Regions from separate parts of the Homo sapiens genome. Here region 1 is linked to region 2. Evidence: fine-mapped QTL for protein levels in blood plasma. Region 2 holds a variant in brackets. A gene starts in the other region. All regions are shown on their forward strands.

Region 1 (2,911 bases), not on the chromosome of region 2:
GTGTATGTGTTTGTGTGTACGTGTGTGTATGTGTTTGTGAAAGTGTTTGTGAATGTGTGTGTGAGTGTGTATATGTGAGTGTATGTGCATGAACGTGTTTGTTTGTGAATGTGTTTGTGTGTATGTGTGAGTGTGAATGTGTGGGTGTGTGTGAATATGTGTGCATGTGAGTGTGTATGTGAGTGTGTGTTTGTGAATGTGTGTGGGTGTGTGAATGTGTGTTTGTGTGTATGCGAGTGTGTTTGTGAATGTGTGGGTGTGTTTGTGTGTTTGTGAATGTGTGTGGCTGAGTGTGTTTGTGTGTGTTTGTGAATGTGTGTGGGTGAGTGTTTGTGTGAGTGTGTATGTGAGTGTGTTTGTGAATGTGTGTGGGTGAGTGTGTTTGTGTGAGTGTGTATGTGAGTGTGTGTTTGTGAATGTGTGTGGGTGAGTGTGAGTGTGTGTATGTGAGTGTGTGTTTGTGAATGTGTGTGGGTGAGTGTGTGTGGGTGTGAGTGTGTATGTGAGTGTGAGCGTGTGTGTGTTTAGAGTCTGCACTCTGTGTGGATCAGGAAAGGGGTCCTTGCAGGCTCGCTGAGTCCCTGCTCTGTGCCCAGCCCCGAGTTGGCTCCAATGGGGCTATATAGAAAGGAAGGCATGGCCGGAGGACCTCTGTGTCAAGTTGAGGACACATTTCCAAGACTAGGAACCATTCAGGGACTCTGGAGTCACGATGACAACTCCCCTTCCCTCAGCCCCGAAGCCCAGGCCTGGACCTCCAAGGGACTCAGGGAAGGGACTCAGGAAAGGGGAGTTCCCCCTGGCAGCCTCCTCGTGGGCACCACCGAGGGTGAGAGGAGCCAGCTCAGCGGGTCCCACCCCCAGGGTTGCCCACCTTGACCACAAGGAAAGGAGGGAGGAGTTATTGGGCCTTCCACTAGGAGGAGACCCGGGGAAGTGAGAGTCGGGGATCAGTCCTGCAAGCTACGGAGTCACTACAGGGAGAGGTCTCATCACTAGAAATAGCCGAAGAACCTGCAGCCTCAACCAGCGTTAAGGAGGACGTGCCGTTTCTAGGGAGTCTTAGTCGGGGCTCACCAGCTTCCTGCATTTTCTGACCGGCTCCAGGAATAGAACCAAAAGAAGCTGAACAAGGAAGCAGCGCGGCACCAAGAAAAGCAGAAGTCGGGGCCTTGGAGGCGTGACTTTCCCCTCGGGTCCAGGTAGGGCCTGGAGCTGCTGCAAGTGCCGCCTGTGCTGGGGAAGGGACCATGTGGCTGCCTTGGGCTCTGTTGCTTCTCTGGGTCCCAGGTGAGAGTTTCCCTTCCCGGGAAAGTCTGCGGCAGGGAGGGAGGGTGCGAGGGGCAGGGCCGCAGGGCAGGTATCACACGAGACGCCCCGAGTCTGGACTCCGTGCAGAACGCAGAATGCGGTGCGCTCTGTCTACCACATAAGATGGACAGATGAAGGTCCACACCCCTGGGAGAGGAAGGAGCCAGGGCCTCTCCCGGCTCTGCACCCACGTACCTTGGCTGAACCACAGCGGGGCAAGTGATAAGGGGTGGGTGCAGAAAAGGGACCTTTTAGGTTTTCAGTTGAATTCTTACAGGAAGGGGGACGAGAGGCAGGATGTGTCAGGGTGGGTGGAGAGTGGCAGCCACTGACTGCGAGGGGCATGTGGTGAGGGTGGGGGAGATGCCGGGCTCACTGGGTGCAGGGTATGGAGGAGGGGGGTGTGGGGAGGGTGGGGGAGATGCCGGCCTCACTAGGTGCAGGGTACGGAGGAGGGGGTGGGGCGGTGAGGGAGATAGGGTCGGGGTGGGGAGCAGATCGATAGTCTCTGGAATGCGGAGATTTAACCAGGGCAGCCCAGCGGCTGGGGCCTGAGCAGGGGGAAGTCCCGAGGCAGCCTTGGCTGGGGTTAGCCCCTGCATGGGCCTGAGAACCAGGGGTCAGTCCTCTCCAAGAAGGGGATATGGGACAGAGGGGACAGAAAAGGTGGTGGGGAGGGCGAGGAGGGAAAAGATCGGGCAGAGAAGCGCTGAGATCTTCTTTAGGGAGAAGCGTGGAGTTGAGTCTTCCCTGTCCAAGCGCAGGGATTCCTCCCGCAGAGTCACCTGCTGTGCCTTCAGTCACGTCCACCGCTCTCCTCAGACAGCTCCTGTGCAGACTCCTCAGGCCTAGTCCTAGGGTATTGTACGTCTTTGTGGTTGCTTTCCTTACAGATCGGAGGTTTTCTGCAATTATATTTGCTAACTACTTGTCTGTGGGAAGGTTATTACTTTTGGTGTCTTGACTTGGAAACGGGTCATCCTCCCATAACAGGTGCTCCTGCGATTCTCTTGGGTGTTCTTCTGTTTCATAGGGTCGGTGTGCATGGGAAGGTTTCAGTTCCTGTCTAATATCTGTTTCTCTTTCTCCCATTGACTCATTGGCTGGTACAGCCGGAGTGAGGCCCAGCGGACATAGTGGTAGTGGTTGTCCCTGCCTTGTTGCTGACTCAGGGAAAAAGGACCAGAGCTTCTCATTATTAGGAAGAAGGGATCCACCAATGACTATTCACAAAGCATTTTTACTTTTATTTATTTATTTATTTATTTATTTATTTATTTATTTTTTGAGATGGAGTTTTGCTCTTGTTGCCCAGGCTGGAGTGCAGTGGCGCGATCTTGGCTCACTGCAACCTACGCCTCCCAGGTTCAAGTGATTCTCCTGCCTCAGCCTCCCGAGTAGCTGAGATTACAGGCATGTACCACCATGCCTGGTTAATTTTGTATTTTTAGTAGAGATGGGCTTTCTCCATGTTGGTCAGGCTGGTCTCAAACTCCCAACCTCAGGTGATCCACTCACCTTGGCCTCCCAAAGTGCTGGGATTGCAGGCGTGAGCCACCAAGCCTGGCCAACATTTTTATTTTTTTGAGACAGGGTCTCC
Region 2 (2,911 bases):
CATTTCCCACCTCTTACTTCTATTGCTAACATTGTGTGATACAGTGAAGCAATAGTAATACAATCATTGATTGATCCTACAAATAAGGACCTCCTATGGTAGGCATTAGAGCTATAGCAAAGAACAAGTCAGACATGGTATCTTCCTTCATGGAGCTTACAATACTCTGGGGAAGTACTTTATCAAAAAGGATGGCAGGGCAATCACTATTCTTAAGTTCTTCTTTGGATAACCCCATGGTTGCCATCTTGAAGATGGGAAATGCAGCCTCACCAAGGGCAAAGAATGAATCTAAGGGCTGAGAAATCCTTATCTATATAGGTCAAAAGGACTCACTTTTCACCTGAACAAATGAAATGGAGTAAAAGATACAGATCTGACTGATGCAAAGAACTACGAAAGTCCTGAGAACTGAATACAAAACATATCACATCCTGGGGACAAATGACTCTTAAAAGGTTCTTTAAATACCATGGTTAATTCTAATGCATACATCTTCATTTGTCACTTATTTTTGAGGATGAATTATTTTAATGCATCAATGAAAACTGAAAATTTTCGCATTGCCAAACACATTTTTATTAGAAAATTAACCATTCAACAACATAACCATGGTCCACACATCTAAACTATTATTATTTACATAATTAACAAAGGAATATTCAAGATACTGTGGTGCTCAACTACGTGCGAAAGTTCATACATTATATCTACTCCCCTTCCTCCTTTCCTCTTCTCTCCTTCTACCACCACCCTTTCCACCACCCACCCTCTGGGCTGGCGAGTCAGAATTAATCACTAGTGCCATTTCACTCCCACAAGACTTCGTGCCATCAGTAGAGGATTTCTCACTCCTTATTATATTTGTGTTTACATATCCGTATTCCCCATTAGATTATGAACCCCTCATGTGGGGTCAGTAACTTTATCATCTCAGGTGCTTGGCATAGCACATGAGACACAGACAAAGCTCCACATTGGTTGAACTGAATTTAATGGACTGTCCTGCATCAGCTGAGCCAATCACAAAAAATTAAATATTAGCAATTTGATAGTATTTGAAGAGAAATATTACCCCCCAAAGTTAAACTAATGCCATTTTCTATTAAAAATTACAATCTTAAATGCCTTCTCAGAGGTACAGTGAGGAAGCAATGTAAGCATATATTATCTAACTTCAAATCACTGGTAGATTTTTATCCCCTAAAGGCATACTTGATAGCTTCTGGCTGAATAACAGATGGATTTTTCTAACAAATGTGAGTGCAAAAGTAGGCATTTCACATGTAAAGATAATCAGTGACTTGAACTTTAGATATACATTCAATCAGTTGGTTAAAATAAGTTAGTTTTGGTTTACAACTAACATTTCTACTCTTGGTTTAATTCTGTAAGTAGAGAAGAAAACAGATAAAAGGCAGAAAATATCTAAGCCAAAGTGTTTCCCATTATTGAAGGTTCTAAAATAGACTTGGGAAGGTCATTTGTCAGAGATATTGTGAAAGATATACAAACATCAAATCAGGAAATTCAATTGAATGCCTTTTAAAGCCCTTTTTATTCCTGATGTTCTGAGATTTTTAAATCAC[T/TAC]ACACACACACACACACACACACGCACATGCACACACACACGTATGTATAAAACGTCTGCCTGAAATAGACTAGAATAACAACAAAAAAAGCCTTTTGCCTTGGACAAAAATAAAAGCAAATATTTTTCAAAGAAAGACTATATCATTTATTTTCAATGATAAAATTTAGAGTAGGGATTGGAAACTTCAATAATCTCTACATAAGATCTAAGATAATGAATATATGCCAATTGTTCAAGCAAAATTATTTTATTTAGCACCTATGTGCCAGGCAAAATTCCAGGTGCCAGAGATACAGGACTGTGTTCATTTCCTACTGCTGCTGTAACAAATTACCACAAACTTAGTGGTTTAAAACAACATAGATTTATTATCTTATAGTTTTGGAGATTGCAAGTCCAAAACAGGATTAACGGGGCTAAAAACAAGGTGTCAGTAAGCTGCATTCCTTCTGAAGGCTCTAGGAGAGAATCCATTCCTTGCCTTTCCAGCTTCTAGAGGCTGTCCACATTCCTTAGCCCATGGCTGCATCACTCCAATAACTGCTTTAATTGTTATATCTTCTCTAATTCTCATGAATCCCTCTTTCCGTATAAGGACCCTTGTGATTATATGGGGCCCGGTCAGATAATCCAGGATAACCTCCCCATCTCAAGAGCCTTAACTTGGCCGGGCATGGTGGCTCATGCCTGTAATCCTAGCACTTTGGGAGGTCGAGGTGGGCGGATTGCCTGAGCTCAAGAGTTTGAGACCAGCCTGGGCAACACGGTGAAACCCTGTCTCTACTAAAATACAAAAGAAATTAGCCAGGTGTTGCGGCATGCACCCGTAGTCCCAGCTACTCAGGAGGCTGAGGCAGGACAATCACTTGAACCTGGGAGGTGGAGGTTGCAGTGAGCCCAGATCGAGCCACTGTACTTCCAGCCTGGGCAACGAGACTCTGTTTCTTAAAAAAAAAAAAAAAAAAAAAAAAAAAAAAGCCTTAACTTAATCACATTGGCAAAGCCCTCTTTGCCATGTAAGGAAACATTTTCATAGATTCTGGGGATGAAGACATAAATATTTTTGAGAGGAATGGTTGTTCTGCCTACCTCAAGGAGTGAATAAAGAGGCCCTGCTATCATGGTTATACTCTAGTGGGTGAAGGAGAAAAGTAAATATGTAGATATGTGATGTAATGCTAGGTGACAAGGGTTAGGAAGAAAAATAAAGCTAAGCAATGTGCTGTGTTATGATGTAGCTATGCTGATGCAAATTTTATGGAGAAGTGGTAAAGAATAAATTTTGGACGTGTTATGTTTGAGAGGCCTATCAGACTTTC

Direction of the effects. Positions count from the first base shown, and alleles are read on the strand shown. Strength reflects both the effect of a copy and how common the allele is.
For the plasma level of the protein whose gene starts at base 1,181 in region 1, TAC is the low allele of the variant in region 2 and T is the other (strong association).

Evidence for each region. PIP is the posterior inclusion probability: the model's chance that the variant is causal. The UK Biobank Pharma Proteomics Project read protein levels with antibody pairs (Olink). The fine-mapping took linkage between variants from a reference panel, not from the people measured, so its PIPs are less certain.
Region 1: it holds the start of CD300A, and the variant in region 2 is fine-mapped to the plasma level of the CD300A protein (UK Biobank, PIP above 0.99).

Annotation. Positions count from the first base shown.
Region 1 is chr17:74,465,454-74,468,364 of GRCh38, forward strand. CD300A (CD300a molecule) reads left to right here and starts at 1,181. Exons shown (of 7, transcript NM_007261.4): 1 at 1,181-1,290. The coding sequence starts at 1,251. It overlaps LOC124904056 (a long non-coding RNA gene), which reads right to left and starts at 2,321. Exons shown (of 2, transcript XR_007065899.1): 1 at 2,097-2,321. RefSeq lists silencers at 1,673-1,732, 1,773-1,832 and an enhancer at 2,193-2,322.
Region 2 is chr12:89,429,845-89,432,755 of GRCh38, forward strand. All of the region lies in intron 9 of POC1B-DUSP6 (POC1B-DUSP6 readthrough), which reads right to left. All of the region lies in intron 10 of POC1B (POC1 centriolar protein B), which reads right to left. All of the region lies in intron 1 of LOC105369889 (a long non-coding RNA gene), which reads left to right. Among named protein-coding and RNA genes, the nearest start is that of DUSP6, 79 kb to the left of the region's middle. The variant T/TAC (reference allele first, on the strand shown) is at 1,590.